Linked DNA regions of Homo sapiens. The protein of the gene in region 1 interacts with the protein of each later gene in a pairwise test. Each region holds a gene or a part of one and is shown on either strand. Other genes may lie near its edges.

What was found.
Region 2: the proteins of SGPL1 (region 1) and FA2H interact in binary tests that used the Homo sapiens proteins (3 or more experiments, as listed by UniProt).
Region 3: the proteins of SGPL1 (region 1) and AQP9 interact in binary tests that used the Homo sapiens proteins (3 or more experiments, as listed by UniProt).
Region 4: the proteins of SGPL1 (region 1) and TMEM176A interact in binary tests that used the Homo sapiens proteins (3 or more experiments, as listed by UniProt).

The regions. Positions count from the first base shown.
Region 1 is NC_000010.11:70,811,596-70,818,949, forward strand, and holds the start of SGPL1 (sphingosine-1-phosphate lyase 1), read left to right. Parts: upstream 1-4,352; 5' UTR 4,353-4,531; exon of another isoform or gene 4,532-4,590; intron 4,591-4,687; exon of another isoform or gene 4,688-4,900; intron 4,901-5,215; 5' UTR 5,216-5,258; coding exon 5,259-5,285; intron 5,286-7,354. UniProt on the Homo sapiens protein: Cleaves phosphorylated sphingoid bases (PSBs), such as sphingosine-1-phosphate, into fatty aldehydes and phosphoethanolamine. Elevates stress-induced ceramide production and apoptosis.
Region 2 is NC_000016.10:74,771,805-74,778,933, reverse strand, and holds the start of FA2H (fatty acid 2-hydroxylase), read left to right. Parts: upstream 1-4,113; 5' UTR 4,114-4,178; coding exon 4,179-4,448; intron 4,449-7,129. UniProt on the Homo sapiens protein: Catalyzes the hydroxylation of free fatty acids at the C-2 position to produce 2-hydroxy fatty acids, which are building blocks of sphingolipids and glycosphingolipids common in neural tissue and epidermis.
Region 3 is NC_000015.10:58,134,078-58,141,385, forward strand, and holds the start of AQP9 (aquaporin-9), read left to right. Parts: upstream 1-4,303; 5' UTR 4,304-4,488; coding exon 4,489-4,599; intron 4,600-7,308. UniProt on the Homo sapiens protein: Aquaglyceroporins form homotetrameric transmembrane channels, with each monomer independently mediating glycerol and water transport across the plasma membrane along their osmotic gradient.
Region 4 is NC_000007.14:150,796,268-150,803,775, forward strand, and holds the start of TMEM176A (transmembrane protein 176A), read left to right. Parts: upstream 1-4,501; 5' UTR 4,502-4,561; exon of another isoform or gene 4,562-4,665; coding exon of another isoform or gene 4,666-4,701; intron 4,702-4,725; exon of another isoform or gene 4,726-5,093; intron 5,094-5,268; coding exon of another isoform or gene 5,269-5,283; coding exon 5,284-5,457; intron 5,458-5,947; coding exon 5,948-6,058; intron 6,059-6,447; coding exon of another isoform or gene 6,448-6,552; exon of another isoform or gene 6,553-7,132; coding exon 7,133-7,189; intron 7,190-7,352; coding exon 7,353-7,508. Other genes in the region: TMEM176B (transmembrane protein 176B), read right to left, coding at 99-307, 3,344-3,351, 3,755-3,957.

The DNA.
Region 1 (7,354 bases):
GGTGTTAGACCAATAATTCTTGGCCGGGCGCGGTGGCTCACACCTGTAATCCCAGCACTTTGGGAGGCTAAGGTGGGAGAATCACTGGAGCCCAGGAGCAGCCTAGGCAACATAGTGAGGCATTGTCTTTATAAATTAATAATAATAATAATAGTAATAATTATTGAGTGCTTATGGTGGATCAGGCCTCATATGTGATGGGCACACACATACATCTCTTACAATTGCCACAGCAGTCTTAGGGTAGTTGTTAATTCTTGCTTTACAAAGGAGGAAGCCCAGGCTTGGACAGTTACAACAACTTGCTGGAGGCCACACAATGATTCCTGGGTAGAAAGCTGTCTCCCTGCCTTCAAAGCTATTTTGAGGCCACACAATGATTCCTGGGTAGAGACCTGTCTCCCTGCCTTCAAAGCTATTTTGTCAAAGGAAGTTTATATTTATTCAGTGTTTGAGAAACAGCTGCTCTCAGTTTTTAATGTTTTGCTAGGAGTGACTGTGCAGCCTGGATAGCAACAATGGTGGGTGTATTAGTCCGTTTCACACTGCTATTAAGAACTTCCCTGAGACTGGGGCATTTATAAAGGAAAGAGGTTTAACTGACTCACAGTTCCACACGGCTTGGGGAGGGCTCAGAAGACTTACAATCATGGCGGATGGTGAAGGGGAAGTAAGCCCCTTCTTCACAAGGCAGCAGCAGAGAGAAGAACGAAGGAAGAACTTCCAGACACTCATAAAACCATCAAATCTCATGAGAATCACTCAGTGCCATGAGAACAGCATGGGGGAAACCACCCCCATGATCCAATCACCCTCCCTCCCTCGACACATGGGAATTATGATTTGAGATGAGATTTGGGTGGGGACACAGAGTCAAACCCTATCAGTGGGCTTCTTTACGAAAGATGAGGTTTCCTTGGGAAATAACTCTTGGCTCTCTGAGGGCTTGGCCACTCTGACTTTGATCAAACTGGCAACTGGGGTATGTACCTGAGTGAGGTCAGGGGGCCCATGATAACTCGGTGACTTGCTGCCCCTTGCTCACTCCAGTTGGCAATGTCGGGGCATTTGGTCCCTGCTGTGGGGGCTCCCATGTCTGTCTGGCCCTTGGCCTCTCCTCCCCTGGTGGCCAGCTCTGCTGTGATCAGCTGAGCCTGCTGCTGGAGCTATGTGCTGGTTTCCTGCCTCTTCTTGGGCATTCTGGGCTCTAGGAACTGTTTGTTGGTTTCCTGTGGGCCATTCCTTTCCAGGATGGGCCTAGAGGCTGCAACCCTCCTAAGATCTGCCCACACCCCTGTCCTGAGGTGAGCTTCTCAAGAAGGTCCCCGGCTGAGCAAGGGGTGTCAGGAGCAAGAATGGAGGCAGGAGAGTGTGTGCGCCTGCTTTTTAGAGTGGGAGTGTGCACTCATGCATGAGTGGGAGGCTGTCATTAACTTGGCCATGGATGGCTGCCATTTTAAGCAGAACCAGATTTGCTGGCATGAATTGTTTAAATGATGGCAGGCACAAGCACTGCAGGGAGATCCTCCTAGCCTAAATTAAAGAAGCCACAGAGGGAAAAAATCCCAGACCATCTTGCTCCACACCTCCCTCCCCCGTCCCAAGCCTTCCGTCATCTGCGGGAATTTCAGTGCCTCACTGACACCTGAATGACAATCTTTTGTCATCCTGGAAGGCACCATGATGGTACCAAAGGACAACTGGGGAGCATTGGTTCCCTCCCCAGCCCCAAACAAACACGTTCTTCATCAGCCTCCTTAAGCCATCCCAAACAACCCACACGCTTAATACAACTATCGTGCCTTCTATCCGGGCAAAGTGCCATGTGTCTGTAGACACAGCTACTCAGGAGGCTGAGACAGGAGGATCGCTCGAGCCCAGGAGTTTGAGGCTGTAGTGAGCTATGATAATGGCTGTAAATAGCCACTACACTCCAGCCTGGGCAACATTATTGAGACCATGTTTCTAAATAAGCAAACAAAAATTGTGCTTTCTCTGCAAACAGAGTGTCTAGGGAAGTGCTTTTTACTTTCTTGTGCATTAAGATCATCTGGGGACCTTGTTAAGCTGTAGATTCTGATTCAGGAGGTCTGGAGTGGGGCCCCAAGAACCTGTATTTATAACAAGCTCTCAGGTAAAGCCAATGCTGCTCTCAGGGAAACCACACTTTCAGAATGGAAGTTCCAGATAGCCCTCCTCTGCCTCTGACCAGCCAGCTATGTGCCTGCTAACGTCATTCTGCTGTCAGAGGGAGTGTGGGGTAGGAGAGCAGGGTGGTCTGAAGTCTTTCTCTCTCTCTTTCTCTCTCTCTCTCTCTCTCACACACACACACACACACACACACACACACACACACACACACACAGGGCTTCATCGGCTCAGAGAGTTGCAAACCCAGACCCATGTTCTAGGCTGGGCTCTGCCAGGAACTGCTAGGAGTCGCATCTCTCTCTGGACCTCAGTTTCTTCACGTGTATTTGTGTATTCTCTGGGGTGGAGCTGGCGAATAGCTGGAGACCCCTCTAGCCCTACCATTTTTTGATTCTAATTAACCAAAAAGGATATTCGAGGTCCCCGCTACAAATTCTGAACCCTTGGCTTCCCCTCCAAACTCCCACACAAACTCCACCCCATCCTGCCTGTGTGTCTTTGGGAGGATCATTTCCTTCTTTGGTCTTGGTGTCCTTGTTTACAGGTTGAGGGATGATAAGAGTCACCTGATCTGGGCAAGTCAGGCCATAAATAAGGCTTGTATGTAAAGGTGCCTAGCATAGTTCTTGGCAAAGCAAGGATCAGTCGATATGATTGCATTGGTTTGAGCATCTGGGAAGAATGAGCAGACTGCATACTGTGTGTTAGGGTGTAGGGAGGAATCAGACGTGACCCTGCCCTCTAGTCATCTGGGTGCACAGATTCTAGATTAAAGGATGTGGGGGTGGTAACTAACAAGGAGATGGAGAGGAGGTGTGCAGTTCCTGGGGGATCTGATGAAGAATTAAAGCAGAAGGGTAGGAGATGGAGAATGGGAAGGCATACCTGAAACCCTAAAGCAACTCTTGATGAGTAGGCATTGGCAGGAGGCCCCAGAACATTTTCTGACCCTCAAACACTGAGAATGCATGTCTGCTGGGGAATAGTAGTGAGGGGGCTAAGGGTATGGGGGTGTTCATGCCTGAGTCAGGGGCTCTGGATGGTAGAAATGTCTGGGAGTTCTGACGGAATGGGGGTGAGGAGGCCTAAAGATAACCTGTTCATAGTCTTTCAGGGCCTTAACCATTATGGCTGGGGAAGTGGGAAGTGCCGATGGGGTATGCAGAGGAGGGCAGCTGTGATAGTACATTTCATCCTGAAAGCACTACATGTGGATAATGACGGTAGTGATGATGCCCTAATTTTAGTGTCATGGCAACATTTTCCAAGGGGATGGAATTGGGTACCCTCATTAGTGTCATTTTTGTTTGAGAGATTTCAAGAGTCTATCTAGGTGTCATTTTAAAATCTATTGAAAAAAAATCTTGAATGCAGGTCACTGACCAGTTGGTTCCATGTAACTGCACTGCCTTCTGCTACCACTAAAGCAATGTTATGACAACCTGGACAAGTCATGGGAAACCTATGTGAGACTTAGTTTTTTCTTTTTCTTTTTGGAGTTGGGGGTCTCACTATGTTGCTCAGGCTGATCTAGAGCTCCTGGGCTCAGACAACCCTCCCGCCTCAGCATCCCCAAGTGCCGGGATTACCGATGTAAGCCACTACACCCAGCTGAGACTTAGTTTTTTCATCTGGAAATGAAGGCGACCTTTGTGATCCCAGTGGGCCCTTGCACTTGTGTATAAGGTGATTCCCAGCACTGCTCATGAAAGTAGTGATGGCAGAGTAGCCTCTGCTCTCCATTTTATTTTTGGGGTGGGGGGGGGCAGTGGTGGAGGGGAGGATGAGGATGATATTTCCATTAAATAAGTTTCCTTGTTGCTTTTCTTCAGGCACCACTGACCTCGATGGAAAAATGAAGTCCCTGGCCCAGGAAAGAGACCCAACTCTGTGGCTGTTTTGGATTAGTTTGTACAATGCCCTGCAGACCTACTCTCTCAGGAGGCTCCAAGTGACCAAATGTGACAAGAAAGTTTTTTGTCCAAGGCAGTTTGGAAGAGAAGTTGGTGACCGTCGGGATACCACAGCCGCCCCAGGACGGCCTGGTTGAGACATTCACTGGAGGGTCTGGGTGCAGCCCGCTGCCTGGCCGGTAGGCGGCGCGCACAGGCCGTGGGGCCCGGGTCTGGGCGTGCGCGCGGCTGGTAGCAGCGGGGCCGCGCACGCCAGGGTCCGGGAGCCGGGCCGGTGCCCCCGGAGCCATTTCCGGGAGGGGCGAGGCCGGCGGCTGCCGGGCCTCCAATCTCGGCGGCGGCGGCGGCAACAGGGGAGCCTGGGTCTCGCGGCCTGCGAGTCCGTCGCGTGCTGAGGGAGACGCAGGAGGTGGAGCCGGCCGGGTGCTCGAGGGAAGGAGACTGGAAGCTGGTTCCGGCGTGAGGAGGTGGAGGGGCCGCCGCGGGCTCCGGGGGGCGGTGAGGGTCGGGACGGAGGCGCCGCGGGGTGAGGAGAGGACAGGGGCCGGGTGGGCCGAGGGCGGGCAGAGGCGGCGGGGCGGCTGCGGCCGGGGCGGGGGCGGGGGCGGGCTGAAGGCGTGGGCACCAGCCGCTGAGGTCCAAGCAAGTGGACGGCGGGCGGGCGCGGGGCCGCGGTGGGGCGGGTCTGGAGCCCACGCCTGCCGCGGGGTAGGCATGGGCGGCCAGGATTTGCTGGTCCTCCGACGGGAGGGGTGACAACGAGAGCGAGGCCGTGCTGATTCTGAAGGGAGTGCGGAGGAGGCAGGACCCTGGTAGCCTCGGCACCTTCAGCCCGGGTTAGGTGGCCTGGGCTGGGCTCCCCACCCCGATCGCGCGCAGACGGGGCGTTTCCCCTAGTTTCCACCTGGGTGGAATGCTTTGTGGGAGTCTGGGTCTGGATTAGTTTCATCAGCTGTGGGAGGGAAACCTAGTTGCAGCAGGATTTTGATTCGCTGGTCTGGGGTGCTAGGGGTGGACTGTGATATCTGGGAATGAAATCTGAGCCTTCAAAGGAGGGAGAGAACCATAACTTGGCTGCTCTGGCGAATCTAGGCGGGCTGGCGAGACAGTTTAAAGCTCTAGAAGTAAACAAACCTGGTTCCCTTTTACAGAGTCTGAAAAAGGGGAGCGCGGAGAGGAGGCTGGAAGAGGAAGATGCCTAGCACAGACCTTCTGATGTTGGTGAGCCTTTTGCAGACATCCTCCTGGTTCCAAGGCATTTGTCTCCGTTTTTTTAGTCCAAAGGATCCCAGTGTGTAGATTTCACCTCTGATGCTTGCTTTTGGTAGCTGAGCGTTTTGCCACCTTTTATTTTGTTTTGTTTTGTTTTGTTTTTTTGGAGACGGAGTCTCACTCTGTTGCCCAGACTGGGGTGCAGTGGCATGATCTCGGCTCACCGCCACCTCTGCCTCCTGGGTTCAAGCGATTCTCCTGCCTCAGCCTCCTGAGTAGCTGGGATTACAGGCGCACGCCACCACGCCCGGCTAATTTTTGTATTTTTAGTAGAGACGGGGTTCTCCATGTTGGCCAGGCTGGCCTTGAACTCCTGACCTGTGGTGATCCACCCGCCTTGGCCTCCCGAAGTGCTGGGATTCCAGGCGTGAGCCACCGCGCCTGGCCAACCACCTTTTATTTTGGATGAATGATCAGGATGAATAAATAGCTGAATTAAATACATCAATACAGTATATGTAGAACTTAAATTATTGAAGAATCTTTTTCAAAATTATTATTATTTTTTTTAAATGAGACAAGGTCTTGCTATGTTCCTCAGACCGGAGTGCAGTGGCTATTTACAGGCATAATCATAGCTCACTGTAGCCTGGAACTCCCACTTCAAGTGATCCTCTTGCTTCAGCCTCTGGAGTAGCTAGGACTAGGAGCACAGGTCACCTCTCCTGGCTTTCTTTTTCATAATTCTTGCAGTTTTAATCCCTCCCTTCCCGTACTACCAGAGCAGTTTTGAAACCTCTATTATTACGTTTTATCAGGGTCTGCCATATACTAGTTTATCTGAGTGTTTGTCTTCCAGATTAGAGTTATGGTTCCTCGACAGGCAGATAATCATGTCTTCTTTGTTTAGAGATGAATAAACACCTAGCATGGTGCTCTGAATATAGTATGTGCTTAACAAATGCTTGTTGGATTGAACCAGTATGAATTTAAGTTCTTTTGTTGGACAGAGAGGTATGCCTGCTTTAGAGCTGTTTCCTCTCCTCCTGAGATCTTTCTGTGCTGTTTTACTGAGCAGGGAAGAATAGCGTTGCTAAATGCATGTTTACCAAAATGACATTTTATTTTTGGGACTTTTATGATTCCTTATGGACTTCTTAGTGTGAGAATTATGGAGAGTTTATAGCTTTGAAATGGTGGTATAGAAAAAGTGTCCGGGTTTAGTTTTTTTTGTTTCGTTTTGTTTTGTTTTGTTTGTTTGTTTTTGAGATGGAGTTTAGCTCTTGTCTCCCAGGCTGGAGTGCAATGGCACAATCTCAGCTCATTGCAACCTTTGCCTCCCGGGTTCAAGCGATTCTCCTGCCTCAGCCTCCCGGGTAGCTGGGATTATAGGTGCACACCACCATGCCTGGGTAATTTTTGTTTTTTAATAGAGATGGGGTTTCGCCGTGTTAGCCAGGCTGGTCTCAAACTCCTAACCTCAGGTGATCCACCTGCCTTGGTCTCCCAAAGTGCTGGGATTACTTACAGGCGTGAGCCGCCGTGTCCAGCCAAGTTTGTTTGTTTGTTTGTTTTTGTCACTTCTCTGAGTGCAAAATCAGTGCTTTAAAAACAATTCATTTCTCTCTCTTTATCTCACTATCCCAGAGGGTGGGTTGGCGTCACTGGGAAACTGGCAAAAACTGGTAGTGAGATTTCCTTATACTGGGTGCTGACATCGTAGTGGCATAACCTGTAAGGTCTGCAGGGGGGCTAAAGAAGAGAGAAACTAAGTTTTGATCCATTGTGATTTGAGGCAGGGATCTAGGATAATTTTAGGTTGTATGTGAGAGACATAGATGAATACTTAGGTTATCCGCAGATCCCAATGAAAAGTTCATCTAAAATAGTATCTTGCCCCAAATTTCATGGATTTTTCAGTTTTAATTAATACCCTTATATAACTTAAAATTCTTATTCAAAGACCATTATGTTAGAAATACTGGAAACTATAAGTAAGCAAAAGGAAAGGGGATTTGTTAATCTCCCCTATCTCCTACATCCCCTTCATTCGCCTCTACCCCGTGCAGTAATTTATC
Region 2 (7,129 bases), on another chromosome or scaffold:
ATACTGTCAGCAAGAAGTGCCTGAGTACACCTGCGACTGTGCGCTTGGCTGCTTTGGCACATGAACGGGATTTGCAGCAGAGTAGGTGTGGAAGTTGGGTAAAGGTGACTACTTATGCATTCACCGCTTGAGAAAAGCAACAACTCTGTTGATGTGAGGCCTCTAGGCCTGACGGACAGGTGCTCCATAGACCCACAGACAGCAAAACTCTCGCCTACTCCCTGAGGGTCAGTCCGAAGAGAAGGGAGAGGGAAGAGGGGCGGCTCTTCTGACCTGGGGACCCCTGAGGCATCTGGGCCAGGCTTCCCATACTTGAACTGGCCCAGCACAGATGCCTGGCCCCAGAAGGGCACAAATGGAGATGATCCTTAAAATATCTTTCCTGAAAGAGACAAAGCCAGCTGGATGGGTTAGCCTCTGTACCAGGAGCATTTGATTACAAATCATGAGTTCAAGTGGGATCCCCTGTGGCTGAGCAAGTAAAGCTGGGTGTGGCTTTTCTGCTTTTTGTTTTCTGTTTAAGAGATGGAGCTCACTCTGTTGCCCAGGCTGGAGTGCAGTGGTGCAGTCATAGGATACTGCAGCCTCAAACTCCTGGACTCAAGAGATCCTTTGGCCTCAGCCTCCCCAGTAGCTGGGACGATAAGCCTGCATCACTACAACTGGCTAATTTTTTAAATTATTTATTTATCCAATTATTTTTGAGATGGAGCCTCGCTCTGTCACACAGGCTGGAGTGCAGTGGTGCAATCTCCACTCACTGCAACATCTGACGCCTGGGTTCAAGCGATTCTCCAGCCTCAGTCTTCTAAGTAGCTGGGACTACAGGGGCATGCCACTGCGCCCGACTAATTTTCTTGTATTTTTAGTAGAGACAGGGTTTCACCATGTTCGCCAGGCTGGTCTCAAACTCCTGACCTCAGGGGATCTGCCTGCCTTGGCCTCCCAAAGTGCTAGGATTACAGGTGTGAGCCACCGCACCTGGCCTCAATTTTTTTTTTTTTTTTTTTTGAGACAGAGTTTCGCTCTTGTTGCCCAGGCTGGAGTGCAATGGCACAATCTCACTGCAACCTCTGCCTCCCGGGTTCAAATGATTCTCCTGCCTCAGCCTTCCTGAGTAGCTGAGATTACAGGCAGGCACCACCATGCCTGGCTAATTTTTTATTTTTAGTAGAGATAGAGTTTCTCCATGTTGGTCAGGCTGGTCTCAAACTCCCGACCTCAGGTGATCCGCCCACCTCGGCCTCCCAAAGTGCTGGGACTACAGGCATGAGCCACCGCGCCCGGCCTGGCCTCAATTTAAAAAAAAAATTTTTTTGTAGAGACGAGGTATTGCTTTGTTGCCCAGGCTGGTCTTGAACTCCTGGGCTCAAGCGATCCTCCTGCCTTGGCCTCCCAAAGGGTTGGGATTACAGGCATGAGCCACCATGTCCAACCAAGTTTTTCCTGTTCTAAACAAAACTGTGATGAACAAATTCAGTCCTCCTTTCCACACAGCATCACCCCCAGCCTTTACTCCTGTAGGCCCCTACTTCCCCTTCTGTAATGGAGACAGTGTTCTCTGTTCTCCCCTCAGGTCCTTCCCCAGGGCCCAGGATTAGAGTGAGGGAGTGAGGCACTAACCCTGAGAGCAAAATCTACAGGCATGCCAAAAAACAAACAAAAAAAAGTAACCAAGATAAATAATATTTTAATGCAGTATTGTAAAACTTCAAGATTAATGCAAAAAAATCCATGATGGACAAAATATCAAAATTTTAAATAAAAACAGGAGCTAACCCTGCACTTTCACATCCCTGTCTCAGGAATCCCTGGCCCTGGTTCCAATAAAACTTTATTTACAAAAACAGGTGGCCAATGCCACGCCCCCAACCCCACCCCTCACCCCTGTCTTTTGACAATGTGATTTTTTAAAACATTCTTAAATATTTTGTATTGCGGTAAAATATACATAATATAAATTTACCATTCCAACCATTTTCAGTGTACAGTTCAGTGGCATTAAGAACATTCACATTGTGCAACAAAATAATTTTTTTTTTGAGACAGAGTCTCTCTTTCTCGCCAGGCTGGAGTGTGGTGGGGCGTTCTCGGCTCACTGCAACCTCCAACTCCCAGATTCAAGCGATTCCCCTGCCTCAGCCTCCCAAGTAGCTAGGACTACAGATGCGTGCCTCCACAGCCAGCTAATTTTTGTATTTTTAGTAGAGATGGGGTTTCACTATGTTGGCCAAGATGGTCTCGATCTCTTGACCTCGTGATTCGCCCACCTCGGCCTCCCAAAGTGCTGGGATTACAGGTGTGAGTTACCGCACCCAGCCAACAATATAATTTTTTAAATATTACGTTCAGGTATTAGATATAGTGATGACTGAGTTTTGGGGTGCCCCATTAAATTTTGCCCTCGAACATTATTAAAAAGTCAAGAAACAGTAGATGTCTGCGTGTATGTAGTGAAAGGGGGATGCTTATGCTATGCACTGCTGGTGGGAATGTAAATTAGTACAACTTGTTTGGAAAACAGTACAGAGATTCTTTAACAAACTAAAAGTACACTTTGGGGCTGGGCGCGGTGGCTCACGCCTGTAATCCCAGCATTTTGGGAGGCTGCGGCGGGAGGATCACTAGAGGCCAGGAGTTCGAGACCAACCTGGCCAACATGGTGAAACCCCGTCTCTACTAAAAATACAAAAAAATTAGCCGGGCGTGGTGGCACGCGCCTATAGTCATAGCTACTCTGGAGGCTGAGGCAGGAGAATCGCTTGAACCCGGGAGGCGGAGGTAGCAGTGAGCTGAGATTGTGCCACTGCACTTCAGCCTGGGCAACAGAGTGAGACTCTGTCTCAAAAAAAAAAAAAAAAAGTGCACTATGGGAGGCCATGGCAGGCAAATCGCTTGAGCCCAGGAGTTTGAGACCATCCTGGGCAGCATGGTGAAACCTCGTCTCTACAAAAAATACAAAAATTAGCCAGGCGTAGTGGTGCATGCCTGTAGTGCCAGCTACTTGGGAGGCTGAGGTAAGAGGATTGCTTGAGCCCGGGAGGTCGAGGCTGCAGTGAACCAAGATCGCACCACTACTCTCCAGCCTGGGTGACAGAGTGAGACCTTGTCACGGGAAGGGAAGGGAAAGGAAGGGAAGGGGAGGGGAGGGGAGGGGAGGAGAGAAAAAGTAGATTCACCATTCGGTCCAGCAATCCCACCACTGGGTATCTACCCAAAGGAAAAGAGTCATTATATGAAAAAGACACTTGCACACGAATGTTTGTTTTTTGCAGCCCAATTCACAATCGAAAAGATATGGAACCAACTTAAATAACCATCAACCAATGAGTGGATAAAGAAAATGTAGTTGATATACACGATAGAATACTACTCAGCCATAAAAAGGAACGAAATGAAGTCTTTTGCAGCAACTTGCATGGAGCTGGAGGCCATTATTCTAAGTGAAAGTGATTCAGGAATGGAAAACCAAACACTGTATGTTCTCACTCATAAGTAGGAACTAAGCTATGAGGACGCAAAGGCATACAGAGTGATATAATGGACAATAGGGAGAATGGGAGGGGGTGTAACACACACACACACACAAAACCCTACACATTGGGTATAATGTACACTACTCGGGGGACAGGTGGACTAAAATCTCAGGACTTACCACTATACAATTCCTCCATGTAACCAAAAACCACTGGTACCCCAAAAGCTACTGAAATTTTAAAAACAAACAAATATTTGCACCCGAGGCGAGCACCTCATTCGCCTCTCGCTCTCTCGGGCACCTCCTGGAGCCAGAGGGTCCCATGCGGCCAGCTCCTCCGTGGAAGCAGTTGAAGTTATTCCAGCAGCGATCAGGCCACCGAGGATGTCCGCCCAGACAACCACCCGCGACGGGGAGACTCGCTCCGCCTGTGTCCGCCCACCCTCCTCCCGCGCGGGACACACCTGGCGGGCGCGGCACTCCCTGTCCGCGGCCACCTGGCGCGCAGCTCCCGGCGCCGGGCCCGCCCCTCGCGGCTCTGCCGGGGCTCCCGGCCGGCCAATGGGAGCGCGGTATGCAAATGAGCAGGTGCGGTGGCGGCCCGCCCGGAACGGCCGCGGGGCTCCCGGGATGTTAGAGGCGCTCAGGGTGGCAGCAGAGCAGACGCCGGGCTGCGCGCTGGGAGCTGCGGTCTCCGGCCATGGCCCCCGCTCCGCCCCCCGCCGCCTCCTTCTCGCCCTCCGAGGTCCAGCGGCGCCTGGCGGCCGGCGCGTGCTGGGTCCGCCGCGGGGCCCGCCTCTACGACCTCTCCAGCTTCGTGCGGCACCACCCGGGGGGCGAGCAGCTGCTGCGGGCCAGGGCGGGCCAGGACATCAGCGCCGACCTGGACGGGCCGCCGCACAGGCACTCGGCCAACGCGCGCCGCTGGCTGGAGCAGTACTACGTGGGAGAGCTCCGCGGGGAGCAGCAGGTACAGCCGGGCCGGGGCCCCCCACCCCAACCCAGGCCTCCGTCAGCCTTCCACTCCCGGGCGAGCCCCGTTCACTTGCCCTCTAGCAGGACCCAAGGTGACAGCTTCTGCCCTCCCTTCCCTCGCTTTCCCTCTCTTCTCTCCAGGCAACAGGTCACTGTCGTCCCCTCCAACCCCTCCTTCCTCTCTCCAGGAACTTGCTCTTCCTTTCCACCCTTACCGCCTGGCCCGCCTCCGTGCCAGCTCTCCCATTTCCCCAGCACCCCTCCTTCCAGCGTGTTCCTTCTGCAGCCCCTGCCCTCCGACAACCTGGATTCCCGTTTCTGTCCCCAGCCCCCCATACGCCTCGGCTTTCCTTCCTCTTCACTTATCGGCCTCTCCCTCTTTGCAACCACTCTCCGTTTCTGTTTGGATAATGGGCTCAACCTGTTCCCACCTCCCCATCCCACCTCACTTCTGCTTCAAAGAGGCACAGATCAGTAACTCTTCTCACTAGCTTGGGTTTCCTGGTGCCGCCCTGGCCTTGCCTGGGCCATGTCTGGGGTGGACTGTGTCCTCCAACCTCTCAGACCTTCCCTTATATTCTTGTCCTACACGCTGGCTTGGGACTCCAAAAGAGTGAAATGAAAGGCATGAGCCAGTTTTGCCAAGGAAAAGGGACCAGCACTTTGGACCAGACTGTGTGCTGAGCTGCACGCTTCTGTGCAGTACCAGCTCCCGATGGTATTTAAGTCCTTAACTCAACCTGGGGCAGGTTTTGTTATTCCCATTTCAGGATATGGAATCTGAGGCTCAGGGAGGCTCTGATTAATGCGCCTAAGGTCAAATAGCTAAATAGTGGGAAAGCCACATGTATCTGACTCCAAAATCAATGCTGGCTCCATCCCAAAAGTCTTCGGGTGGAGGAGACAGACCTAGTCCACAGGATTCCAGGTAGGCTCAGGCCAGAGGCAAAGCGACTCTCTTGATGTTCCCCAGGCCTGGCTCTGGGACTGGTATGGGGCCATCATGCTTAGATATACAGTAGTTCCCCCTTGTCCAAGGGGATACATTTCAAGACCCTCAGTGGATCCTTAAAACCACAGATAGTACCGAATCCTATATATGCTATGTTTTTTCCCATATATGCATATCTATGATAAAGTTAAATTTATAAATTAAGAACAATAGGAAGAGATTAACAACAACAATAATAGAATAGTTACAACAATATACTGTAATAAGAGCTATTTGTATGTGGTCCCTTTCTCTCAAAACATCTTATAGTACTGTACTCACTCTTCTTGTGATAATGTAAGATGATAACATGAGGCCAGGCAAAGTGGCTGACATCTGTAATCCTAGCACTTTGGGAGGCCGAGGTAAGAGGATCGCTCGAGCCCAGGAGTTCAAGACCAGCCTGGGCAACATAGGGAGACCTTGTGTCTACAAAAAATACCAAAATTAGCCGGGTGTGGTGGCATGTGGCTATAATTCTAGCTACTTGGGAGGCTAAGGTGGGAGGATCACCTGAGAGGTGGAGGCTGCAGTGAGCCATGATCATGCCACTGCACTCCAGCCTGAGCAACAGAGTGAGAGCTCACCTCAAAAAAAAAAAGATAATAAGATGCCTACATGATGGGTTGGAGTGAGGTGAATGACAGGTGTGGTGATGTGGCATTGGCTACTATTGAAAAGTAATTTAAAACTTATAAATTATTTCTGGAATTTTCCATTTAATTATGTTTTTGGACCCAGGTTGACCGTGGGTTACTGAAACCATGGAAAGTGAAACCGTGGATAAGGGGGACTCCTGAAAACCAACAATTGTCCCCTGCTTCTAACTCTTGCTTTCAAGATGAGCCCAGCAACTACTCTTAGATCTTTGGTTGAAAGGACTTAGCACCCACTGTTTCAGGTGGCTTTTCATTGGGTCATCCTGCCTAATTTCTCCATCATTTATTCAGTCATGGAACTGGTTCCTTAATGGGTTGACAGCACTGTGCTGGGTGTGGGGAGATATCAATGAACAAAACGAATTCGGTTCCTGTCTTCATGGAGCTAATGGGATAATGGGGAAGGAGAGGGAACACACAGATCACATGATAGTTGCTTAATTAATGGTGTATCAGAGTACGGATCTAGAGGGGAGGAGCATAGAGAGCCTTCTTGAGAAAGCGACATTGACACTGAGAGCTGATTGATAGGCTGGGCTTAGCCAGGTGGCATGTAGCAGGAAGAATATTTTGGGCAAAGGGAACAGCACGTGTGAAGGCTCTGGCAGGAAGAGCTTGACATAGTAAAAGACTGCAAATAAAACCAACGTGGCCAGAGGCTGATGGGCAAAGACAGGGATGTGGGGGGAGGCCAAAAGTCGGCCGGGGCCACATCACACGGGGCTTCGTAGGCTGTGGTCAGGATTTGGGACTTGACTCTAACAAAAATGGGAAGCCAGGTGAGCCCGGGAGGTGGAGGTTGCAGTGAGCCAAGATCACGCCACTGCACTTCAGCCTGGGCAATAGAGCAAGACTCCATCTTAAAAAAAAAAAAAAAAGGAAGCCAGGGAAGAGGTTCAGGCAGGGTTCATGGTCAGATTTGCATCTTTAGAAGAGGACGCTGGCTGCAGTTTCAAGGAGGAACAGAGACAGCCTAAGTGGGTGTGAGGAGATCAGGCAGGATGCTGCTGCATGGCTGCCACTGCA
Region 3 (7,308 bases), on another chromosome or scaffold:
CGACAGGGATTATAAGAAATTTTAACATTTTAATTTAAATACTTCTAATTTTTTTCAGTGTAATATGATTTTACACTCATGGGAAAAAGGTTATTTCTTCCTCAGGTGGAAAAGAAAAAAGTGAAGGAGATATTAACAGACAAAATGGTAATTTGGAGTGAAACAACTTTGAGGAATGTTTTTCAGTATTAGAGAGACCTGTGTTTGTTTTGGTCCTGGGGTGGTGGGAGAAAGCCAGTGTTGGAAAGAGACTGAGAGTGAAGGGAATGTTGATTGGCCTGGGTTCCAGAGGGGCTGGAATAGAACATTAACATGGGCCAAACGGTAGGAATAAGGAAAGGAAAAGAGGATAACATATATAAAACTAAGGCAATTTTTTTAGGAGTAAGGGCATAAAAGGACTTACAGTCAATGAAACCTATGCTTTCCCAGTGGATTTGGAGAAAAAAGTAATCATCTGAGTGGGAGGGTTGGGACTGTGAGCTGGAGGCATAGAAGAGTATGTGGTTGCTGCTGGGCAAAGAATCGGCTCTGAATTATCAAGTATGCTTGTGAGATTCCTGGGCTCCATCCCAGATCTACAGAATCAGTCTCTGAGGGAAGCTGATTTTAGTGCATGCTAAAATCTGGAAACTTGGAAATAAAAGGTTAACTAAGAACATGGGGCCACTGCTGATGCTATATCACAATTATCTGCAATAGCGTTAATCAATACATTTATGATTTTCTTCAGCAACATTTAGCAGCCAGGGAAGAGAAAGTCTGAGAAAAAAAAAATGGATGGTTAGGCATACCCAGAGTTGGGCTTTGGCAACATGGGTGTAGAAGAAAATCACTGGGTCAATGGAACCTGAGATGCTGGGAAGCGCTTCATTAACGTGGGTAATCATGAGGTAATAATTAGGTGGAAAGGAAGGCTTTGAGGGACTGGAATTTAGAATTAGGAGGTGTAGGGGAAGTGAGGTCAGGGTGTGAGAGGCGGTTATACTTATAAACACCAGGCTTCTATCTTGGGATTGCGTGAGTGTAGGCAAAGATGGTTACCCAAGGCAAAAGTAGATAAACACAGAATAGAATGTTGGGGAGAAGAGAAGATAGGAAGGGGCAGAGCCAAGGGAACTATTAATAAAAGAACAGCATATGCCAGCCCTGGAGAATCAGTATGGCAGTGCATCCAGGAAAGCTCATCAGCTTTAGAACCATTGACAGCAGTCACCATACTCATTCTTTCCTCTGCATGTTGGCAAATGCAGAGTTAGCTCTCAGATGTTCCTATGGTGACAGCAGAAATTTTGGTTCAGTATCTTGCTTACAACTCTATTCTACTCTATGGTGTATTCATTCAGACATCTTAGTCACTTAGACTATTAATTCCTTAATAATAGAGATCTGGTTTTGTTTTTTCATTTTTAAATTCCCACTGCTTAATGCTGTGCCTGACACATGGTACATATTCAATGAAAACTTTTTCTGAGTGAATGAAATTTAAAAGCTTCCTCATGCTTCCAGTTAGAACTTTGGAGTCAGGGTATTTTGACAAAGGCTCCCTCCCAGATGGAATAAAGGAGGAATACTATTCATTGCTTACCTTCTTAAGATGCTTTTGAACATTTTGTTAGGTGGCTGGAACATTTTGTTCAGTGAATATTTTGTATGAGTAAGCTATGTTTGATGATGAGCTGTTCGTGGTGATGGAGGTGAGAAGTGTGACTGTCAATTGAAGGTAGTAAAACAGAAATAATAAAGATTCCATCCTCCTCTACCTAAGCATGAAATGTTCCATATCAAACTCTCAGTTCTCTTCAAACTCTCTCCCTAGGGAGCCTCTTTACTCCAGGCTCCAGTTATCACCACTATGAGCACACAGACATTCCTTCCTCATCTGGACCCATATCACTTCCTAACTTACATCGCTCAGAAGCCTCTGAGGCTCAGTTTTGCACAAGCAGAATTAATGATCTTCCACTGCACTTCTGGTCCTCTTCCAGGATTTCCTCTCCCAGGGCTCAGCAGCACCTTCCCCAGCAAGTTAGGAACTCAGGAACCAACTTTTCTCAGTCTCTTTTCCTCATCTCCCACATCTAATCCATGAAATTCTTCCAATTTTAAGATATAAAGAACTCTTGGATCCCTCCATTTCTCCACTGTCAAACTACCACCCAATTCTGGAATTCTGTAATACCCCCAAATGTATCTGCCTATGACCATTCCAAGCCCCCTCCAATCCCCTCTCCACCTCACAGCTCGGAGGATCTTTTCAAAACTCTAATCTGATCATGTCGTATTTCTGCTTAAACCACCTTAATGACTTACACTTTTAGCCCTAACTACCACTTACAAGGCCTAGTAAGGTCTGACCCTTGCCCACACCTCAGGGCTCATTTTGCATGCTGTACTCCTTCACTCTCTCTGGGGCCAACCACAGTAAATTTCTCTCATTCTTTGAGAGGCATCATGCTGTCCCCTACCCCTTACCCCCAAAGCCACCAAGGACTTTGTACATGCACTTTCTTCCCCACTTCATGTAGTTAATCCCATGCTTCTTTCTGATCTCAGTCCACACATGACTTCCTTGGAGAAGCCATCAGAGATCTCTCCAACAAAGTCAAATCCTTTTGCTATATTTGCTTATGGAAATATGGCCCCCATCTTTGCAGCATACATCTCAGTTGTGATTTTGTATTTATGTGTGTGGGATTATTTCACTTACATCTGTCTGCTTCACTAGACTCTAGGCTCTGTGAAGGACAAGAACCCTATGTGCTCTTGTTAAGTGCAGTGCTTGGCACATAATGAGTGTGCAGTAAATAGTTGTTAGATGAGTGAATGGGAAGACCAGAGAACGCTCTTGCATGTTATTAGCTGTAGTCACAGTAAGAAAGTCCTGTTTCTCTGGTCCATCCACTGGGACTTGGTAATGGTGTGGTCATAGGTAACTCTTCTAGACAATGGTATTTATGATAACTTCATCAGGAATTAAAGCCAAAGTGCTGAGGTTTTGTCCTGGTTCTGCAGTAGTGTGGCCTCAGGCAGGTTATAACTTTTTAAAGTCTAAATTCTAAATGTCACCTACAGATGAGAAGTCTCCTTCTGCCTTTGGCCTCTCACCAGCTGCTTTCTCCATGTCCTCTCCTCCCTCCCTTTTTGCAAAGCTAGGGGAGGGCCTGATGCAGAGCTGGCTTCCCTGTGGGAGGACTGGAAGGAACCACACAGCATGGATACTAATTCCATGAGTCCACATTGGTAATCAGAAACTAGGCCTGCCTTGCTATTTAGAAACTAATGCTATATTCTATTTCTTCAGATAAGCCAGTTTTGAAAAACAAGGCTTGAATATTTGGCAGGACAAGGAGCTACTCCCAAACACAGTTTCTTGCCAGCAAGGATGTCAATTTATCAAATTGAAAGGGTATAACCTAGGAGCCTCGGTTAGGTGTACTGGCTCCCTTTCTCGTTTGATTAGAATGACATACACGCTAATTGATCTCTTTCCGGCTCAGTCATCTCCATGCAGTAAAGAATTTCAAGCTGCTATTGTTTATTTCCTATGTATTATGTCTAAATATTTCATGGTGAATGAAGAAGAGTGACTATTTTCAAACTGGAATGCTTCTTCAGAAGAAACCCAAACTGGAATGTTTCTTCAGAAGAAACTTCAGAAGTCACCAAAAAGGTGACTCCTCCATCTTTCTGATTCTTGGATCCTAAAGTATCTTCAGCAAGTGAAGCCCAGTTTCATAACCGAAGAGGTGACTCCATCTGTCCTACAGACTTGCAGTGTGAAGCTTGCAATGGTTTCTCTGTATGTTAATTTCTCCATCTCTAGGATGGCCTATGTGGTTCTTACTAACCTCAGAGTGGTATCATGAAGCCACTGAAATGATACCAGAAGAAAACAAGAGTGATTAATCTTCTAGGATGATAAATCTATATTTTCTTCAAATTCTTCATTTTGCATAAAAACCTTTTTCAGAAAAGAATGTTAACATTGGATATATCTACACCTGATTTGACAGTTCCAAACTACACCCCAACCACCCACTTCTGAATGAGAAGAAAAAAAAATCAGAAGCCTGCAATTGTGTAACATGAAAATCTTTTCTGGACCAGGGCCCGTCACTGTGATTTGGCAACACAACTGGCACATCTCTTTTCTCATCTCTTGAAAAAAACCAACAGAGAAAAAAGTACCTTGAGAATAAAGGTAATGATTAATCTGTCAGGCACAAAAGGGATTGTTTTGGGGATTTCGGGTTCTAAGTCGCAGATTCAAACAAATAGCAGCGAACAGGGAATGACAGTTCCACCAGAAGACGATTAAGCCACAGCCTCTAATTGGAACGGCATTTGTACAGTCAGAGACTCTTACCAGACATCTCCAGGAATCTGTGAGCCATTGTCAAAACGTCCATTTTCATCTGGCTGTGAAAGTGAGGACCACAACAGGTAGGTATTGGTAGAAACAGGAGTCCTCAGAGAAGCCCCAAGATGCAGCCTGAGGGAGCAGAAAAGGGAAAAAGCTTCAAGCAGAGACTGGTCTTGAAGAGCAGCTTAGCGAAAGAAACCCTCTCTGAGTTCTTGGGCACGTTCATCTTGATTGTAAGTATTTCCTGATTTCCTACATTCAGACCCAATAATGCCTCCCTAGCTGCCAGGCTGGTAGTGGAGAGTTTTGTTTGGTTTGTTTTATTTAAGTTAATTGGGATCAGATTCATCTTTTCCAGGAAGAAACAAGTTACTAGAGGCTGTTTGACTATTTAGGGGTTGTGATATTAAGTTTTCAATTACCTATTGCATTTACCCACAAAAGTTGATGGGAATGGAAGAGAAGGAGTGAGTGAAGTGCCTTCTTTATTTCAGGTATTTACTTATACTCTAAAATGGCTTTGTGATTTAAAAGTCAGTCGTTAGTGTTTTCATTGATCAATTGATTTGTACCCTGCTTGCTTCCTCCAAGCATTGGGGTGACTCAGCCACCTGGAATAAGCATCAATAGTCAATAAATATAGTTGGCAAAAATATACATATGGATGGCAAGAAACATCTCAGTATGACAAGTACTTGACAAGTATTGTGCTGTCAGATCACTTGATTTTTAAGAAATTAAAAATTGCACTAGGTAGAAATAGTGTACCAGGCAATAGTCCAGCTTTAGTTTTGTGTCATTTTTGGTCTCTATTTAAAGCAAAGTAATCTCTAAATATCTTTGGAGATTTACAAGACAATTACAAGAACCTTCTAGATATAAACGAGGGACGACTTCTAAGAACCTCTTGAGGATTGCCCAGAGATTTACTCAGCTATTAACAAGAGACTGGAAAGTTTACTTAAGTGGTCTGGGCTTTCATTTTGCTGCACGTTCTAGCATTCTCTGTATCCTGAAGTTTTACCTGGAACCAGGCCATTTGTGAATAGAAATGTATTATCATGTGGCAACTATTGATTTCAACTGGTTTTTTTTATCCTGCTTAAGGATTTCCTACTCCAGGTATAAATAATTTCATTTTCCTTAAAGTTATAGAGAATAGCCCATAAACTCTGTGCATTAAAAGTTCTTTGCTTGGGGCAAATACATAATAATTTAGAAGAATAAGCTTGGAATGCATCAGCTAAGCCAAGAATGAGAAACAAATGTGAACTCAAAAAATTGAACTAGTGGAATGTGAAGAGAGAGTCATAAGTTTTCTGGTCTCTGAGAAACACATTAGACCAGATTCGTTACAGTATTTTCAGGGAGTTACGGACAATTTCTTGCACTCCTCATCTTCCCTTGGCATTCATTCCTGGCTGCTCTGACCACACTCACTGTCATAATGTAGCAAGACATTATGTAGTAAGACATTATGTAAGTAGTTATTTCTAACTAAAATAAAAGAAATAAAAGAGAGAAGATGAAAGTCAGTGATTCTTATGATTCCCGGTCACTGCTTACTGGAAAATCTTTCTTAGTGAGACTGAGACCCCTCTGTCATGTTACTTGACAATCTGGCCCCAAAGAAGCAGTTGTCAATACAGAGTGATTACAGCCTCACAGTGACGAGTGAGTCAGAAAAGTGAAGCAAATTCAGTTACAATTCTTAGTGCTCTGCAGAAAACAGAGGAGGAAATGAACTACACATCTTTTTTTTTTTTTTTTTGCAACCAAAAAGTTTAAAACCCTCTGTATTTCTTAAGAAGAACCTGTTTCATAATCCCGTGCTTTCTGTGTTGAAAGTGAAATTTGCTTTCAGCAGTTCACTGTTCAACTGGCCTTGTGTCTTCCCCACTATGCAAGGTAGGGGCTAAATAAAGAACATCTTGATATTGTCTGTTGAAAAATTAAAACTTGTATGTTCTGGATAAAGCCAGTCATTTCCTGAAATATTTAATTTCCATTTATACTATACATTTATTTTCTAAAGTGAACCCTAATAAAATCTGCAACCTTGATTATCATCTTCAGTTTTGTTGGAGCTTGTGGGGATGTATAAACAAAAAGTTCCTGCACAAACACAATTTTTTTAAACCAAGAAATCTACATGGTTTTGCTGAAAGTTTATCCAAAGTAATTTTCTGCTTTATTAGAGAATGTGCATTTTGCCTTGTATTTTCTAGTAAAAAGCTTTGTACATTGATAAGGCAAAGGGAAGGGGAACATCGAAAAGATGGCAGAGGATATAAAGGACTCAGTCTTTCAAATATGTGAGATTGTTTTTTTTCCGCCAACCTTGGGAGTCTGGTTCTATTTTTTTTCCCTCCTTTCAAAAACTGCTCTTATGGGGAGCATCTCAAACTAATCTAACACCATGGTATAAATTACGGGTCCCCAACACATGGGCCACGGACTGGTACAGGTGGTCCCTGGTGCTAAAAGGTTGGGAACAGTTGGTATAAAGGACTGATAAGGCCTACTGGTAGCATTAAGAGAAAAGAAGGTCCATGAAAAATTCTTTATAAACTACAACTAAAACCAACAACAATTAAGTCATAAGCCAAAAAGCTAGCTCTAATTTGGCCTTTTAGTCATTGGGATACGTAGGCCTTTCACCTTTACTAGTGTGGGGGGAAAGTTTGCAATGCAAAAGGCTGATCTCTTCCTTGGGCTGAACTTCAGAGAATCTCTAGTCATGTCTAGTCATTTCTCACAGGGACTATGCTCACTCCTACTACTCTATATATTCTCCTCTCTCTTCAAACTTTTCAGGATTCTTTGATACAGAGCTCATCTTATTGAAGATGCTGAAGTGAACAACCCAGCAAGCAGCTGTATTTCCTCCTGAGGTGGAAGGACAGCTTTCCAGGGCTGGACTTTTGAGTAGATAACATACT
Region 4 (7,508 bases), on another chromosome or scaffold:
AAATAAAACGTTTTAATTTTGAAGATTTGGCTCTATATTTTAATTGACCTCATCACCTCGTTAACGTGCCCCCCAACCCCGCACCACCCCAGTCTTACCCCTAGAGCCAGCTGCTCATAACCAATCCTGGCTGTGGAAGGCACAGTGTCCCCAGGGTGAAAAAGAAACTTCTTCAGAGAACCTCCAGCTTTCAGCAGTTGTGTCAAAGCTGACTCCTGGTGGATGTGGACGTTGACGTGGGTGGGCTGGGATGGCCTAGAGGCCATAGCAACTCCATTCACAATCACCGTGTTTTGCGTCATCCTGCCTGCCAGGGAGAAGACATATAGCAGTGAGGTCTGGGAACTAGGCGAGGGAAAAATACACAGCACAGGTGAAAGGAGAGAAATAGTGTCTTTGTCAAGATCCCAGCTGGGCACAATAGCTCACGCCTGTAATCCCAGTGCTTTGGGAGGCTGAGGTGGGTGGATTACCTGAGGTCAGGAGTTCAAGACCAGCCTGGCCAATGTGGCAAAACTCCCTCTCTACTAAAAATACAAAAATCCGCACGGTGGTGTGCACCTGTAGTCCCAGCTACTCAGGAGGCTGAGGCAGGAGAATCACTTCAACCTGGGAGGCTGAGGTTGCAGTGAGCTCAGATCTTGCCACTGCACTCCAGCCTGGGCAACAGAGTGAGACTCCATCTCAAAAAAAACAAAAACAAACAAACAAACAAACAAAAAACAGTGTCTTTGTCAAAATTCAAAGGGGCTTCCCAGTGCAGATATCAATGGCACTGGAAATCAATAGTGATTTTACACATAAAAAAGTTAAGAGATACAAAAGGGTATATATACCTTTAAAACCTTATCGCTCATCTTTTTCCCTCAACCACCTATTTGCCTTGCAGATGCAAAGTAATATTATCAGTCTCTTATAAATCCTACCATGACATTTTTGCATACAAAAGTGTGAAAAAGTATTTCTGCCCCCTTTTCCCACAAATAGCAGCATACTATACACACTGATTTGCATGATGCTGTGATCACACGATCATATGTTTTTAGAATAATCCTACATGAGTCCATAAAAAGTGTCAACCTAAATAACAGAGAGAGGCTCTCCAAAAGAAAATGAGATTGATTCTGGAATAGGGCATTGCAATGAGAATATGCTTACCATAGTAAATCATGTGCACGTTCAGGGAGGTAAAGGAAGACAAAGGTTTTTAAAGGAAAAATGGGGAGACTTACATAATCTCTTTGAGGTGATCATCCTTGGCTACAAGGATCAATAACAAGGGTGACACAAGTCCAGGGTTAGACAGGCAGTTGCTGGTGGATGTCCTCACAGAAGTATTTTTTTGTGTAAGGTTGTCATTTTACAGAGTCCTTTGTGATGACTTTTGTTCCCAGGTTATTTACGCATGAGAACCCTGCCTTGTGGGCCTTCCATTTTCAGATTTTTTTTTTAACTCAAGTGACTCGATTATGATTCTGACAACTTTCACAAAAGCTTCTTCACTCATTTGTGTAACTGCATATATTTTGAGAGTATGAATTCCTCATAATTTATTTAAGTGGTTCCCTATTGGCAGACATTTAGGTTATTTCTAATCCTTTTCCATTACAGACAATGTGGAATTGGCAGGGCACCAGGAATGCGCATTTGCAATTTTAGTAGATATTGTCAGTTATCCTCCACGGAGGTGGTAGCAATTCACATGCAGGAGGCAAACTCTTTTATCTTTTTCCTTTTATATGGGGAAAAATGCATTGATTTTAATCAATTTTATGTAATAAAAATGTCCCATTTTAAATGTATATCTCAACGAGTTTTGACAAATTTACACATTTGTGCAATTACAGCTACAATCAAGATAAAGGACATTCCTACACAGCAATACATTCCCTAAAGCCCCTCCCCAGAAAATACCCCCAACCACTGGCCATGAGCAACCACTGACCTGCTTTCTGTAATGATTTCCATATATTTTTAATCCATGGTTTTCTTTTATTTCATTTTTTTATTATGTATTTATTTATTTATTCATTTTTTGAGATGGAGTCTCGCTCTGTCGCCCAGGCTAGGGTGGCGCGATCTCGGCTCACTGCCAGCTCCACCTCCCGGGTTCACGCCATTCTCCTGCCTCAGCCTCCCGAGTAACTACAGGCGCCCGCCATCAAGCCCAGCTAATTTTTTGTATTTTTAGTAGAGACGGGGTTTCACCGTGTTAGCCAGGATGGTCTCGATCTCCTGACCTCATGATCCGCCCGCCTCGGCCTCCCAAAGTGCTGAGATTACAGGCGTGAGCCACCGCGCCCGGCCAGTTCTCTTTTTTTAGAGAGAGAGATGGGGTGTTGCTTTGTTGCCCAGGGTGGTCTCAAACTCCTGGACTCAAGCAATCCTCCCACCTCAGCCTCCCAAAGTGCTGCAATTACAGGTGTGAGCCACCACGCCTGGCCCATAGTTCTCTTATTATGAGTGAGGTTGGTTGTCTTTTCATATGTTCAGGGCCATTTTTATTTCTTCTTTTGTGAGCTCTCCGTTCACATCCTATGTCCTTGTTTCGTTTTGTTTTGTTTTGCTTTTTTCTATGGAAGTTCTTTATCTATTCACAAAATTACCGTTTGTGATATGAGTTTCAAATGTTTCTTTACAATTTGAAGTTTATTTTTTGACCTTGCTTGTATATTCATACAATCCATGTTCTATTTCATTCTATTTATGGTGTCTAGCTCTTACACTTTTAAAGGACTTCCCCGTTTCGAGATTATAAAATAATCTTCCACATTTTCTTCTAAGTGCCTTTATGCTTTCAGTTTTCACTTTTAAATGCCGACCATCTGGAATTTGGGAGCTGGGTGACCAACCTTCGCCGTTGGGAGACACGGATCCAAGTTCTGTTGCTGTCATTCAGATGTTTAACTTCTGAAAGATACGTTCCATTTGCGGAAAATACATCCTCTTTTTCTCAGTGATTTAAAATTCTCTCCTGAGCAGAAATGAAGTTCCCCTAGGAATGTAGGCCTATTCTAGTCCTTATATTCTGCCCATTGGCATGTCTCATGGGCTAGGCATCATTACCACAATTTTAACATGGAGCTTAATGCTAATTGGGCTGTTTCATGATCCCCTCGTGTGGTTTTTCTTTCAGAATTGTCATGGCCATTTTTGCTAGACTACTTCTTCACATGCACTTTAGAATCAGCTTGCCTGGCTCTAAAATAAATCCTGCATAGGCAATTCTAATGGACATCCTGGCTAAGTATCACAGTTTAAATCAAATATTATTAACAATTCTAATAACACCTCCCATTCGTACTCTACCTACTTTTCAAAGCAGTTTCACTCTTTCACCCACCTGGCCTCCTTGGGGTTAGAAAGGACAGGAGTTAGACAATTCCGCACACGTACAAAGGAGCTTCAGACTGCTTCCAGCCCAGCCCCAGATTCCAGCCAGACCTTCCCTTGACGGCCCAGGCCTCGCCCTGAGGGCACCTCGGGTTCCAGCTACCTCCGGGCCCCCAGGACCACCGCTTCCCCCGCCCCACGCCAACCCCTAGATCTGCCTCGCCCCCGCCTGAAGAGTCGGATCTGAACCAGGCCGGCACCACGGAGATTCCCCTGCGGGCCGCCCGACGCCTGGTAGGTGGTGGGCTCTTCCCGGCTGCCCCGAACACTTTCCTCTGTCCAGCTCTTCCCGTGCCCCGGGGCTGGGGAAAGCGTCCGGCAGCCCCGCCGCTCCCTGGCCCCGTCCCAGGAGCCACCCCACCGTAGGGCTCCAGCCAGGGTCCAGGCGTGCAGGCGGCAGAAGGTGGACGGGACGCGCCAGCCCCAGGCCTCTCCTCCCGCTCTCCAGCCGTTTTTCTGGGGAGAAACACCTGCACCCAGCTGTCCCTCCCTCCTACGTGAGTCCTCCTGGAAACCAGGTTGGAGGAAGAAAGACGTCCTGTGGACAGGACGGGGTGGGGGCATGGCCCTGGGGACTCCTCGTGACAGAGGGTCCTGCGGCAAGAGGGTCTCCCGGGCCGCGGAGGCCCTGCCTCACCTGCAGTCCTCCGGGAGCCCGCGGCCGAGCAGAGCGGACACTAGCTGACCCCGAGCAGGGGAGCGACGGGAGGGCGGAGACGGCAGATGCACGGGTGGGGGCTGCGGCCCCGCCCAGGCTGCGCGGTTTCCCGAAACCAGCTGCGGCCCGGGGGCCCGGCAAAGGGGGTTCCGCCCGGAGGAGCGGACCGGGCGGGAGAAGACCGAGCCCCCGCGCGCCCCCTGCGCTCCCACTCGCGCACACTTGCACGCCGGCCCTGGCCGGGCGGGGCTGGAGGCGAGAACGACCCCACGGGCTTTCCCAGGGCCGTCCGCCCGCGGACCCTCCCAGCTCCCCAGAGCCCAGTGACCCTCGCGCAGCAGGAGAACCCCAGACGGACCCCAGGCCCTGCAGCCTGTCATGAACCCGAGGGGCTGAAGTTCAGCCCCACCCCCGCCTCCCCTCCCCGCCTCCCCCTCCAACTCTCAACCCACTTCTCCAGCCAGCGCCCCAGCCCTCCCGCCGCCCGCTCGCAGGTCCCGAGGAGCGCAGGTGAGGCGGCACCCCACTCCCGGCGGCCCCCGGGCCTCCTTCCGCACGCACCCCGAGCTGCCTCCGCACAGTTGGAGGAGCGTAGGAGGGACCCCCACCCAGGGATGACACTCCAGGAAGGGGACTGCAGAGGAAGCCAGGTGCGGCCCCGGCTTTTGACCTACCTCCGCACCGCAGCGCGGTCCTTCACGGGGCAGGGGCGGCGTGAACCCGTCGGGCGTGAGCAGCAGTCGGTGGAGCGGGAGGTCGGCGGTGGCGGGGATGGGGGTATCCGGAGCGCAGCCGGGGCGCAGCTGCTGGCACAGGAGCTCCACAGGCAGCCAAGGACTCGGTCCTGTCCCAGAGCCTGCGGACTGTGGAGGGGAGGCCGCAGGAAGAGCCCGGGAGGAGGGGGTGAGGGGTCGAGGTGTGGGGCGCTGCTTGACCCAGACGCCAGGGCCCTGGGAGGAGGATGAGGGGGACAGAGCAGATCTTGGGCGAAAGGGGAGGTTCCCGCAGGCTCTGTAGTCGCCGCAGTTCCAGCATGGTCAGCACCCCCTCTGCTACACACATTCCCCTCGTGAGGGGCCAGGGGTGCGGCCCTGTGACCAGGACAGCCATTCATTGGGTGACTTTGAGCCACCACTGGCCCCTGACCTCCCCAACTCCAATGAAATCTGCGAAAATCTTCTGACAGCCGTTCCTCTCTGGTGCTCCCTTCCTCATAGACTGTGTCCCTGACAATGGGAACAGCCGACAGTGATGAGATGGCCCCGGAGGCCCCACAGCACACCCACATCGATGTGCACATCCACCAGGAGTCTGCCCTGGCCAAGCTCCTGCTCACCTGCTGCTCTGCGCTGCGGCCCCGGGCCACCCAGGCCAGGGGCAGCAGCCGGCTGCTGGTGGCCTCGTGGGTGAGTGTGACGGCCTGCCTCGTCGGGCGGCGGGAGGAACTCCCCACCTCCAGCCGCAGCAGCACTCTCTGCCAGCCTCCCTCTGAACAGGACACCGAGCCAGTTATGTCTTCTTACTTAGCGATGTGATTCTCTGGCCTTCTCAGTAAGAGCCTGGGGAGGGGAGGCTCTGGGCTGAAGGGGTGTGGAGGAGCCACTGACCATGCAGAGTCCCAATCAGTGGAGCCCTGAGTCCATCCTTTCCTCTGGGCCAAACTCAGGATGGGCCGGCTCTCCTCTCCTTCCTTTCCCTTCTCTTTTCTCCTCCTCCTGCCTCTTCTTCTTTCTCCTTCTCCTCCTCTTTCTTCTCCTTTTCTCTTCTCTTCTCTTCTCTTCTCTTCTTTCTTTCTCTCTCTCTCTACCTCTCCCTCTCTTTTTGGGGTTTTAGCGGTTAATCCCTGCAGTGGCAGGTCCACCTAGGAGCCGGGATCTTGGGTCCTTTGTCTTTCAGGTGATGCAGATCGTGCTGGGGATCTTGAGTGCAGTCCTAGGAGGATTTTTCTACATCCGCGACTACACCCTCCTCGTCACCTCGGGAGCTGCCATCTGGACAGGGGCTGTGGTGAGTAGAGCAGGACAGTGCTTGACTGCCTGTGAGAGGGGTGGGGCATTGCTCTCCTGATTGCCTTCCTCCAACATGGCGCCACAGAATGCTGGCAGTCGGAGAGATCTGATTATCTAGGACCATTCCCTGCCTGTTCAGATGAGCAAACAGCTGAGGGCGGTGGTGGCATGTCCTATTCACACTGTCTGCTCTCCCATACCCTTCCCAGTGCTGTTCCCACCAGGCTGGCTGCCTCTCCCTGCCTTCAACAGTTAATGTCAACTAAGGATCTAAGGACCTGCTCATCTCCAGATACTTGCATTGAGATGGGGAAGGCAGAGCGTTCCAGATAGTATGTGGTCCCCCAGGAAGCATCACCCCCTGGTTATTCTCATTGTCCTCCACAGGCCCTGTACACAATGGAAACCCAGGAATTGTTGTCAACAGATGGGTGTGTGCAGTTTGCACAGGAGCTGGGTAGGCTGGTCATGGTACCTACACTCTCAGAATAGCACTAAAACACTCATATTTACTGACAGAAGCCGAGAGTAATTACCTTCACCCAGCCTGTGGCAAAATACCCAGCTTAATTACAGAATTAGCCAAACAGGATTCAGGTCCACCTGTCCACTGGGACATACTAGATTTCCTGTTCTTCAAGCCCAGCTGAGTGGATTATTGGGCACTGTTAGGACAGGCTTCTAGACCTAACAGTGCCCACTCTGTATAGACTCACCCTTCATTGAGATCTTCTCCAGCACCCCATGACTTTTATCCACAGGATCCCACCATCCCTAGAACTTTCATAAAGCACTTGGTGTTGTTTAAAAAGGAAGGTTTAGAAGGGAAGAGGGGCTCACACCTGGCTTGACCACAAGCTCTTAGGTGTCACTAAAGCAGGGCCTTTTGCAGCCTCAGGAGTTGGATCCAGGCTCCACCCTCTCAGCAATTATCTTACCATGGATAATAAAGCTTAGCATGAAACCTCCCGCCCAAGCTGTGTGCTGGGGAAGGGCCTGCATGGAGGCTCTCTCGTGGGAGAGGAGTTGCATTTCCTGTACTAAGCCTGCTCCTGGCTCAATCTCTCCCCAGGCTGTGCTGGCTGGAGCTGCTGCCTTCATTTACGAGAAACGGGGTGGTACATACTGGGTAAGTTCAGGGAAGGGCATGGGAGGGGACCAGGTTCAGGCTGGAGGTCACCCCAATCTCCTGCCCTGTTGCAGGCTTCTCTGGGCCTTGCCCTTTTTTCCCCCGACTGGACTCTGAGAGAGACTGAAACACAAAGATTTCTCTCTGCCTCCTCCCTCCCCAGGCCCTGCTGAGGACTCTGCTAACGCTGGCAGCTTTCTCCACAGCCATCGCTGCCCTCAAACTTTGGAATGAAGATTTCCGATATGGCTACTCTTATTACAACAGTGCCTGCCGCATCTCCAGCTCGAGTGACTGGAACACTCCAGCCCCCACTCAG